2 separate regions of the Homo sapiens genome follow, and region 2 is linked to region 1. The links come from fine-mapping of genetic effects on gene expression. A gene starts in region 1. The other region holds a variant in brackets. All regions are shown on one strand. Distances are between the middles of the regions.

What was found. PIP is the estimated chance that this variant, and not a neighbour inherited with it, causes the effect. A credible set is the group of variants that fine-mapping cannot tell apart.
Region 2: its variant is the best candidate, but not a certain one, in a credible set for the expression of NDUFB5 in lung (TOPMed, PIP 0.56).

Annotation. Positions count from the first base shown.
Region 1 is chr3:179,602,006-179,607,005 of GRCh38, reverse strand. NDUFB5 (NADH:ubiquinone oxidoreductase subunit B5) reads right to left here and starts at 2,212. Exons shown (of 6, transcript NM_002492.4): 1 at 2,067-2,212. The coding sequence starts at 2,190. MRPL47 (mitochondrial ribosomal protein L47) reads left to right here and starts at 2,368. Exons shown (of 7, transcript NM_020409.3): 1 at 2,368-2,479; 2 at 4,209-4,354. The coding sequence starts at 2,382. RefSeq lists enhancers at 1,627-1,716, 1,747-1,906, 1,345-2,211, 2,087-2,286, 2,212-3,078.
Region 2 is chr3:179,551,533-179,557,065 of GRCh38, reverse strand. No RefSeq gene overlaps it. Among named protein-coding and RNA genes, the nearest start is that of ACTL6A, 8.6 kb to the left of the region's middle. The variant T/C (reference allele first, on the strand shown) is at 2,277.

The DNA of each region.
Region 1 (5,000 bases):
TTTGGCTATATGAGAATATCTGTAATCAGAAATGGCTTATAAAGGGATTTTCATCAAGGAATGTAGTTTTGTAACAAGTTCAAATTCCTGCTGGAAATTTGTTAAATACCACTGGTTCTTTGCATCATGTTTCCAGCAAATCCCTATGTATATTGCCTCATCCTGTGGAGTGGCATAATTCAAATTAAACTGGGAGAATAGGGGTAAAAAGAGAACAAGATATTTTGAGGCTGGAGACAACTTTCTGACTTTAAGTGTTTCACTTCCTCTTTACCTGCTTCTATTGCACAGGGCAAATAGCTTACAGTATATATCTAATGAAGAGGATTAAATAAATTAATACTTTAAACCCTTAAAATGATGCTTGAGGTCAGGTGGGGTGGCTCACGCCTGTGATCTCAGCACTCTGGGAGGCCAAGGCAGGTGGATCACGAGGTCAGGAGTTCGAGACCAGCCTAGCCAACATGATGAAACCCCATCTCTACTAAAAACACATAAAATTAGCCGGGCATGGAGGCGTGCAACTGTAATCCCAGCTACTCAAGAGGCTGAGGCAGGAGAATCGCCTGAACGCAGGAGGCAGAGGTTGCAGTGACCCAAGATCACGCCATTGCACTCCAGCCTGGGCAACAGAGCAAGACTCCGTCTTGAAAAAAATAAAAATAAAAAAGGATGCTTGACACGTAACAGGTGCTCAGTAAATGTTGGCTATTATTTAGTGACACATTATTTAATAATTGAGTCAGTTTCCTCATCTGTAAAATGAAAATAACATTGTAATTTCTTTGCAGAGTCTCTGAGATAATAAAGTACACTGAATATCAAGCATTTGATCTTTGCTATGATTATTCACACCGCCATGATGCAACTCACTGTCTCCAAGGAGGTCCAAATAGCCCTATTAAGACTGTATTGGTCAGGTGCAGTGGCTTACGCCTATAATCCCAGCACTTTGGGAGGCTGAGGTGGGCGGATCATTTGAGGTGAGGAGTTCGAGACCAGCCTGGCCAACATGGTGAAACCCCATCTCTACTAAATATACAAAAATTAGCCAGGCGTGGTGGTGTGCACCTGTAGCCTCAGCTACTGGGGAGGCTGAGGCGGGAGAATCGCTTGAACCCGGGGGGTGGAGATTGCAGTGAGCCAAGATGGTGCCACTGCACTCCAGCCTGGGTGACAGAGTGAGACTGTCTCAAAAGAAAAAAAAAAAAAGACTGTATTATGACTTTCCTGAGACCTAGGCACTTTTGCCTTCAAGGGCCCCTTCGTCTAAGTTATTAAAAATAATATTTTATGACTGCATTGGTATAAAACGAACATAATACAGGCTGGATTCGTTATCATATTCATAAACATTATGGTTTTTTTAAAAAAGAAATTTAAATTAAAAGACTTTCGTAGACCCCTAAAACTATCATGGGTTCAGGCAGGAGAATCGCTTGAACCCAGGAGGCGGAGGTTGCAGTGAGCCAAGATCGCGCCACTGCACTCCAGCCTGGGCAACAGAGTGAGACTCTGTCTCAAAAAACAAACAAACAAAACAAAACAAAACAAAAACCTCTCTTCCTCCCCAGTTCATCTGCATCTCATTATTGGGCGGCACGGTACTTACTGTGCCTAAAGAATAAGTTGGCCCTGAGCCTCTTTACCTGTCTACATATTACCTGTCTTCATATTCCTTAGCATAGGTGGGCTTCTCGGCAAGATGACTTTGCATCTGTGGGACTAGAACCTAGCCTTTGGGCAGGTGGAACGCAACAATAAGCTTGTGCCCTAGAGATACAGATCTCAGCTCTATACCTTTCTAGACTCAGCTTCATCCGCAAATTAGCATTAATTGGGATGGTGAATAACAACGTTTTAGAAATGCTAATAATGTAAACACGATCTATCTGGCTACTTCAGGAAAACCCCTCATATAGCTCGTGCTCCGTCTCTCCTGTCAAGCCCCAAGCCCACAACTTGTCCCGGCTCCCTCCGGATCCCACCAAGGTCACCCTGGAAGCGTCCTCCCTTTTCTCGCCCCGCACCCGCTTCACGCCCGTTCTCCCTAGGCCAGCACCCACCAGCAGCCTTCGGAAAGCCACGAGTGAGGAAGCCCCCAAATCCGAGGCGAGTGCCAAGGGGCCGGCCAGACAGAGCTGCCACCGCAGTAACCGAAACCCGCCGCAACAAACTCATGGCCGCCATGGCTACTACGGGCAGGAGGAAGAAGGGAGGCGGGTCACGGAAGCTGAGAGAGCCAATTTACCAATGAGGACAAAGGCAGGATGTGGCCATCTTAAGTGAGGGCAAGTTTTCTATTCTCCTCACCGCCGGCTTGAGACGCCGGAAGTGACGCTATCGTTGGCGGAAACGCGTTTTGCCAGTTATGCGAAAACATGGCTGCGGCCGGTTTGGCCCTTCTTTGTAGGAGAGTTTCATCCGCCCTGAAATCTTCCCGATCGTTAATAACTCCTCAGGTCCCTGCCTGCACAGGGTAAGTGATGTATAAAGTAGGTTTGCCCACCTCTCCAACTTTGGATCTTGTTTGGTTGCCGAGATGCCGAGATGCCGAGAACAACTCAAGAATGGAACGGCCGCCTGGATGGCAGAGCCGGAGCCCACTTTGGTGAGGAGTGAGTGACCTTGGAGAAGTCGCTCACCTCCGACATTTCTATTCCTTCCTCATTTTGTTGCTGCCTGCTGTGGACAAGACAGTATATGGGGTTTGTAGATGTCCAGCATTTGTTGAAGTAAATACATCTATAAGTACAGAAGCATCCTCTTGGGCTGGGTGAGGTGCGAAAAACTTTACCGAAGATGTTTTTGTTGTGATACTCAAGTCTGTGTCAAGTTTGGATGGATTAAAAAAGAAGAGATATTTGTATTTACAGGATGTGTTACAATGAAAGTAACTGGTAACTTAGTAACTTCTTTTATTTATTTATTTTTCTTGGTCCTGGATCCAGTGAAGTATCCATTTATTACATTGGTTGCCATGACTCTTTAGTCTCTATCCGGAACAATTTCTTTTTTTTTTTTTTCTTAATGTTGTTGACATTTTGATGAGATTAGCTTTTTAAGAATCTTATTCATTTGGATTTGTCTGATTGTTTCCTCATTATAAGATTTAGGCTAAATATTTTTGGTAGGGATACAACACTTGTGATAAACTTCATTATTTAGTTTCAAATCATCTCAGGTCGTTAACTATTTTTTAAAAACAGGATTTTTGAATTACTGCATAATAATTTATCATCCAGATGCACAGTAATTTTTAAACCATTCTTAGCTGCGTATTTACATAATTAAAAACTTGACATCCTATATAGTGCTTTAATAAACATCTTAATTTATAAATTCCCATCTATAATAATTTTTTCAGTTGAAACTTCTAGATGCAGAATTACTGAATTAAAGGAGGAAGTATTTGAGGCTCCTGATACATGTTGCAAAATTGTGAGGTTTTTTTGTTTTTGTTTTTTGAGACAGGGACTGACTCTGTCGCCCAGGCTGGAGTGCAATGGTGTGATCTCAGCTCACTGAAACCTCTGCCTCCCAGGCTCAAAGCGTCCTCCCACCTCAGCCTCCCGAGTAGTTGGGACTATAAGGCACGTGCTACTATGCCTGGCTAATTTTTGTATTTTTGTTAAAGATGAGGTTTTGCCATCTTGCCCAGGCTGGTCTTGAGCTCCTGGGCTCAAAGTGATCCTCCCACCTCGGCCTTCCAAATTTCTGGGATAACAGGTGTGAGCCACCGTGCCCAGCCCACATGTTGCAAAATTGACTGCTCTTTTTACCTGCGCTTGCACCCATTAGCAATGTAAGAAGGACCCAAAAATGTTACCTTAAAATATAATTGTGTAACTATGTTACCTCTGAAATTATAAGGTAGCAGCTTCTATAATGCAGTATTAACAATACTTTCTAAAGCATTTTCAAAATTTATTGTGGCCAAGCATGGTGGCTCATCCCTGTAATTCCAGCACTTTGGGAGGCCAAGGTGGGAGGATCACTTGAGCCCAGGAGTTCGAGACCAGCCTGGACAACATAGTGAGACCCAGTCTCTAAATAAGAAAAAAAAATTAATTCTTGTGCAGAAACCCTGAGTAGCTTTTTAAAATGTTATCGATGACAAAATGATTATGTTTATTATGATAATGTTTATTGCTTATAAAATCCAGATATTATAAAACTTTTACTTGTTTATGTGTGTTCAATTGCAGGTTTTTTCTTAGTTTGTTGCCTAAGAGTACACCAAATGTGACATCCTTTCACCAATATAGATTACTTCATACCACATTGTCAAGGAAAGGACTAGAAGAATTTTTTGATGACCCAAAAAACTGGGGGCAAGAAAAAGTAAAATCTGGTGAGATACTTGGATTTGTCAACATTAGATATATTTATGGAACCCCCCCCCCCGCCCCGCCCAACCATCGTTCTAGGATTATATATCCAGTTTAGGAATTATTTAGATGTTTCCTTTTTCAGTTTTCTTTGAGACTGTCTACTAGAGAAAATTAAAGGGACAATATAATAGTAGAGTTAATTGTTCCTTGGCAGATTGGCAAGATGGTTAGATAAGGAATAGGCTGAAATTATTAACTAAAGTAAGGTTTAGGGCTTATTTTAGATTTTATTTTTTAATGATAATTTAAAGTTTGTTTATTTATTTAGAGATGGAGTTTTGCTCTTGTTGCCCAGACTGGGGTGCAGTGGCACAATCTCAGCTCACCGCAGCCTCTGCCTCTCGGATTCCAGTGATTCTCCTGCCTCAGCCTCCTGAGTAGCTGGGATTACAGGCACGTGCCACCACGCCCGGCTAATTTTGTATTTTAAGTAGAGACAGGATTTCGCCATCTTGGTTAGGCTGGTCTTGAACTCCCAAACTCAGGTGATGCCCGCCGTCTTGGCCTCCCAAAGCGTTGGGAATACAGGTGTGAACCACCGCCCCAGTTAATTTATAATGACAAAGTATTTTGTCATTAGGGTGTGAAAATACGTTCTGTACTAAT
Region 2 (5,533 bases), 50 kb after region 1:
GGTGGGAGAACTGCTTGAGCCCAGGAGTTCAAGGCCAGCCTGGGCAGCACAGTGAGACCCCTGTCTCTACAAAAAGTAATAAAAAAAATTAGCCAGGCTGGTGGTGTATGCATGTAGTCCCAGCTATTTAAGAGGCTGAGGTGTGAGGATTACTTGAAGCTGGGAGGTCCAGGGTGCAGTGAGCCATGATCGCATCACTGCACTCCAGCCTAGGATACAGAGAGAAACGCTGTCTCAAAAAAAAAAAAAAAAAGCATTATTCTTTTTGGAAATCAATTTTAAAATATTTACTTTGGACATTTTTATTTTAATAATTTTAAATGGTATACATACGGCTAGAAACTGAAATGACACAACAGTGAAAAACAAAGCTCCCTTTCTCCTCTTTCAATCCTCCCAATTCCTCAGTTCCTCTCCCCAAATTGAACTACTGTTACCAGTTTCTTATGTAACCTTCCAGAGATAGTCTTTTCAAATAGAAACATATATTTATATTCCTTCCCCCCATTATTGTTATTTACATAACTGAACAAGTGATTTTGTACTTGACTTTGTTTACTTAACAGTATTATCTTGGAGGTCAGTCCATGTCAACCTGTATAATTCTTATTCCTTTTAACATCAGCACAGAATTCTATTACCTGTATATGCCATGATTTATTTCACCAGTTCTCTATTGAAGAGACATTTAAGTTGTTTCTAGTCTTTTACTATTACAAAGAATGCTGTAATGACTATTCTTTTCTTTGCGCATATATGAGAGTTTTTGTGCAGGATGAATTAGCAGAAGAGACTTTGCTGGGTCACAGGGTATATACATTTTTAATTGTAATGGTCATTGCCAAATTACACAGGACTTAAACAATTTACATTTCCCCAATAATATGTTTGGGAGTACACTTTTTCCTCCAACTCTCACCAACACAGAACTTTTTTAAACTTCTGTTAAGATGGAGCTTTTATATAAGATGTTTTGTTCATTCATTAGCTGTTTAGGTAGAGCCTGTGATTTACTGTTCGTACCAACAACAGTGCACCAGATCCAAGAGTGCATTTTGGGGGGCTCTAAGACTGGATGAAAAAAGAAGCAGAATAATTTACAAGCAAAACTTCTGATCTGCTAACTTTTTGACCTTCTGCTCTAAGCCTGGCACCAGGGAAACTAGGTGAAATAAGCCATGCTTTCACTCAAGGGCTATAACAGTTCTCCCATTAATGTGAAAGTGGCTGCTAGCACATTCCAGTTGCTACTTGAAGAATGGATCCCAAATATCCACTTAGGCTGAGGCTTCCACCAATGCTTGAGAAGATGTGGGTGGTGACTACACAATTCCTTCTTCCATTTAAAGTTGTTTCTCTCCACCCTGACACATGATTAAAACAATAGTAAACAAAAGAAAAGTCATTTGCCACACCTAACATGTAGTATGCGCTACATTTCTAACCAGGGATTGGTTATAGAGTTTGTTTTGTTTTGTTGGAATGAAGGAAAAAGGCATTTCTTTTGTTCTTTTGTTTTTTGTTTTTTTTTTTTTTGAGACGGAGTCTTGCTCTGTCGCTCAGGCTGGAGTGCAGTGGCGTGATCTCTGCTCACTGCAAGCTCTGCCTCCCGGGTTCACACCATTCTCCTGCCTCAGCCTCCCGAGTAGCTGGGACTACAGGCGCCCGCCACCACGCCTGGCTAATTTTTTGTATTTTTAGTAGAGACGAAGTTTCACCATGTTAGCCAGGATGGTCTCGATCTCCTGAACTTGTGATCCGCCCACCTCAGCCTCCCAGAGTGCTGGCATTACAGGCATGAGCCATCGCGCCCAGCCCTTATTTTTTTTAAGCAGGAGGTGGAGGGAGGTGGGAAAGTTTTTTTCTTTCTTTTTTTTTTTTTTTTTTTTAGGAAAAATCTATGAGAAGCAGGGAGATTATTATTTTTATTTTCCCCCTCTTACTAACCACTATACAAATGAGAAGGGATTAATTATTAGTTATGAAAATCATTGGTCTTTGCAAAATTATTCAAATAAATGCCAGTTACCAGCTCTACCTAAACTGACTGGACGAAAGCCTATATTTAAGCTTACTATTGTGTTTGTTAATTTCTAATAAAACCTGCTCCCCAAATGGTCATAATCCAGAAGGAAAAACTAAATTATTGAAGAATTTGAGCATTAAATTAGGCCATAATCAGCCTATCGTGCCTACTTGATATTACGAAGTTAGCATTGTTGAGTGCACACTCTCCTTGCCACTCCTCCCCTTACCTCATATAACCTAGAGAATCA[T/C]GTTATGATACTCTAGGATCACTCACCTTGGATATCAACTGTCAGACTTTGATAAACTCCCACAGGGATTTAAAAGCCTCTGTACTATCTGTGGTATGCCAGATCCAGAAGCACATAGGGACTCTAGACTGGATGACAAAAGCAAGAAGAATAATTTACAAGTAGAACCTGTGATCATTCCATATACACTTGACCCTTGAACAACATGGATTTGAACTGTGCAGTTTCAAAATATGTGATTTTGTTTGTTTATTTGTTTTTTGCTTTTTTGAGACAGGGTCTCACTCTGTTGTCTAGGCTGGAGTGCAGTGGCGTGGTCTCTGCTCACTACAACCTCTGCCTCCCGAGTTCAAGTGATTCTCCTACCTCAGCCTCCCAAATAGCTGGGATTACAGGCGTGTGCCCTCACGTGCAGCTAATTTTTTTTTTGTATTTTTAGTAGGGACGGATTTTTGCTATGTTGACCAGGCTGGTCTTGAACTCCTGACCTCAAGTGATCCACCTGCCTCCGCCTTCCAATGTGCTGGGATTACAGGTGTGAGCCACCACACCTGGCCATGAATTTTTTTCAATAAATATATTGGAAAATTTTTATCAGTGACAGTTTCAAAAGACTGACAAATGAACTGCATAGCCTAGACATATCCAAAAAGTTAAGAAAAAGGCATGTCATCAATGCATAAGATATATGCAGTTACCAGCTATCATTCACTAACGTAATACACAAATCTATTATAAAAAGTTAAAATTTATAAGAACTTATTATACACACAAACAGATCTTACATGGGCCCCATTCACAGTCAAGAGAAATAAAACAAATGTAAAAATGCAGTATTAGGCTGGGCAATGTGGCTCACGCCGGTAATCCCAGCACTTTGGGAAGCTGAGGCGGGCAGATTGCCTGAGCTCAGGAATTCGTGACCAGCCTGGGCAACAAGGTGAAACCCCATCTCTACTAAAAATGCAAAAAAATTAGCTGGGTGTGGTGGCAGGCGCCTGTAGTCCCAGCTACTCCGGAGGCTGAGGCAGGAGAATCGCTTGAATCTGGGAGGTGGAGGTTGCAGTGAGCTGAGATTGCACTGCTGCACTCCAGTCTGGGCGACAGAAAGAGACTCCATCTCAAAAAAAACCCAAAAAACCAGATTGTGTATTTATAGAGTATGTTGTTATTTTATTAAAAGTTATGTGTAAAAATTATACAAATAAAACTGTGTGTAACTACATAATTATATATAATTATTATATATTATGTGTGTAACTACATGTAATTATATATTAAAATATAGTTATATATGTCTATATGTAAAATTATATCTATATCTTTATATAGATAAGCAGATAATATAAGCAAAGGAAAAAAGCCTGATGTAATATGTACCGAAATGTTAGCCTAAGGACTAAAACCTCAACCTGGGATTGTAAAAGCTTTTCTTAGTATAAAAGTTTAAATTTTTTTTTTTTTTTTTTTTTTTGAGACAGAGTCTCACTCTGTCACCCAGGCTGGAGTGCAGTGGTGCGATCCTGGCTAACTGCAACCTCTGCCTCCCAGGTTCAAGCAGTTCTCCTGCCTCAGCCTCCTGAGTAGCTGGGACTACAGATGCCTGCCACCATGCCCGGCTCATTTTTGTATTTTTAGTAGAGACAGGCAGGGTTTCACCATATTGGCCAGGCTGGTCTCGAACTCCTGACCTCAGGTGATCAGCCCACCTCGGCCTCCCAAAGTGCTGAGATTATAGGCGTGAGCCACCATGCCTGGCCTAAATGTTTTTTAAAAAGCAATCATCTTAAAACAAATTTATGGTACAAAATGAAACATTTTAAAATGTACATATTACTAGTTATATACAATCACTTTTGTCTCTTTCTTTTCAATGCTCGTCTGTACTTTATACTTGTCAAAATTTACATATTTTCCTAGTTTTCTTTGCTTTATTCCTGTTGTATGCTCAGGGTCAGCAGCTTGCAATAAACCACAGTTTAAAAAATAATATTAGGCTGGGCCGGGCGCGGTGGCTCACGCCTGTAATCCCAGCACTTTGGGAGGCCAAGGCGGGCGGATCACGAGGTCAGGAGATGGAGACCATCCTGGCTAACATGGAGAAACCCCGTCTTTACTAAAAATACAAAAAAAAATTAGCCGGGTGTGGTGGCGGGCGCCTGCAGTCCCAGCTACTCGGGAGGCTGAGGCAGGAGAATGGCGTGAACCCGGGAGTCGGAGCTTGCAGTGAGCCGAGATCGTGTCACTGTACTCCAGCGTGGGCGACACAGCGAGACTCCGTCTCAAAAAAAAAAAAAAAAGGCTGGGCACAGTGGCTCACGCCTGTAATCTCAGCACTTCTGGAGGCCAAGGTGGGCGGGTGATCACCTGAGGTTAGGAGTTCGAGAGCAGCCTGACCAACATGGTGAAACCCCATCTCTACTAAAAATACAAAAATTAGCCTTGTGTGGTGGCGGACGCCTGTAATCCCAGCTACTTGGGAGGCTGAGGTAGGAAAATCGCTTGAACCTGGGAGGCAGAGGTTGCAGTGAGCCAAGATCACACCATTGCACTCCAGCCTGGGTGACAGAGCAAGACTCTGTCTCAAAAAAAAAAAAAAATTAGATAAAAGTTGTGATTATGATCTTAGTGATAATAATGTAAAATAGAGCAAGTTTAGGTAAAATTTCTAAAAATAAGCTTTCTTGGGGAAAACCAACACACTCACAAATGTTACTCTCAAGTGTTACTCAAGAACCTTTCAGAAGGGATATCATGTGGAATCCTTCAGAATCTCTTTGTTTGTATGTCCCTGGAGACAGACACCAAAAACTTCCAGGAGCATTGCTACTCTGTGTTTCTTACTACAGCCCAATTGGCACAATGGGAACAACTCTGATGCTTTTAATAGCTGTAAGAACTACAGTTGACCCTTGAACAATGCAGGGGTTAGGGTTAGCCTAAGTTAACTACTAACAGCTTTCTGATGACTATTTATGGATAATGTAAATAGTTGATTAACACATATTTTATATGCTTGTACTGTATTCTTACAATAAATTAACCTAGAGAAAAGAAAATGTAATTAAAAAAATCTTAAGGAAGAGAAAAATACGTTTACAGTACTGTAAATGTATTTATAGACACTGTAGATTTATGTCATCTGTTTACAAGATGAATTGTATGCCTGAAATAGCGGGCAACTGCAGCTGCAGGCCTCAATCTCCAGTACATATCAAGTAATCCAACTTCTGCACTGCAGCCTGGGCGACAGAGGG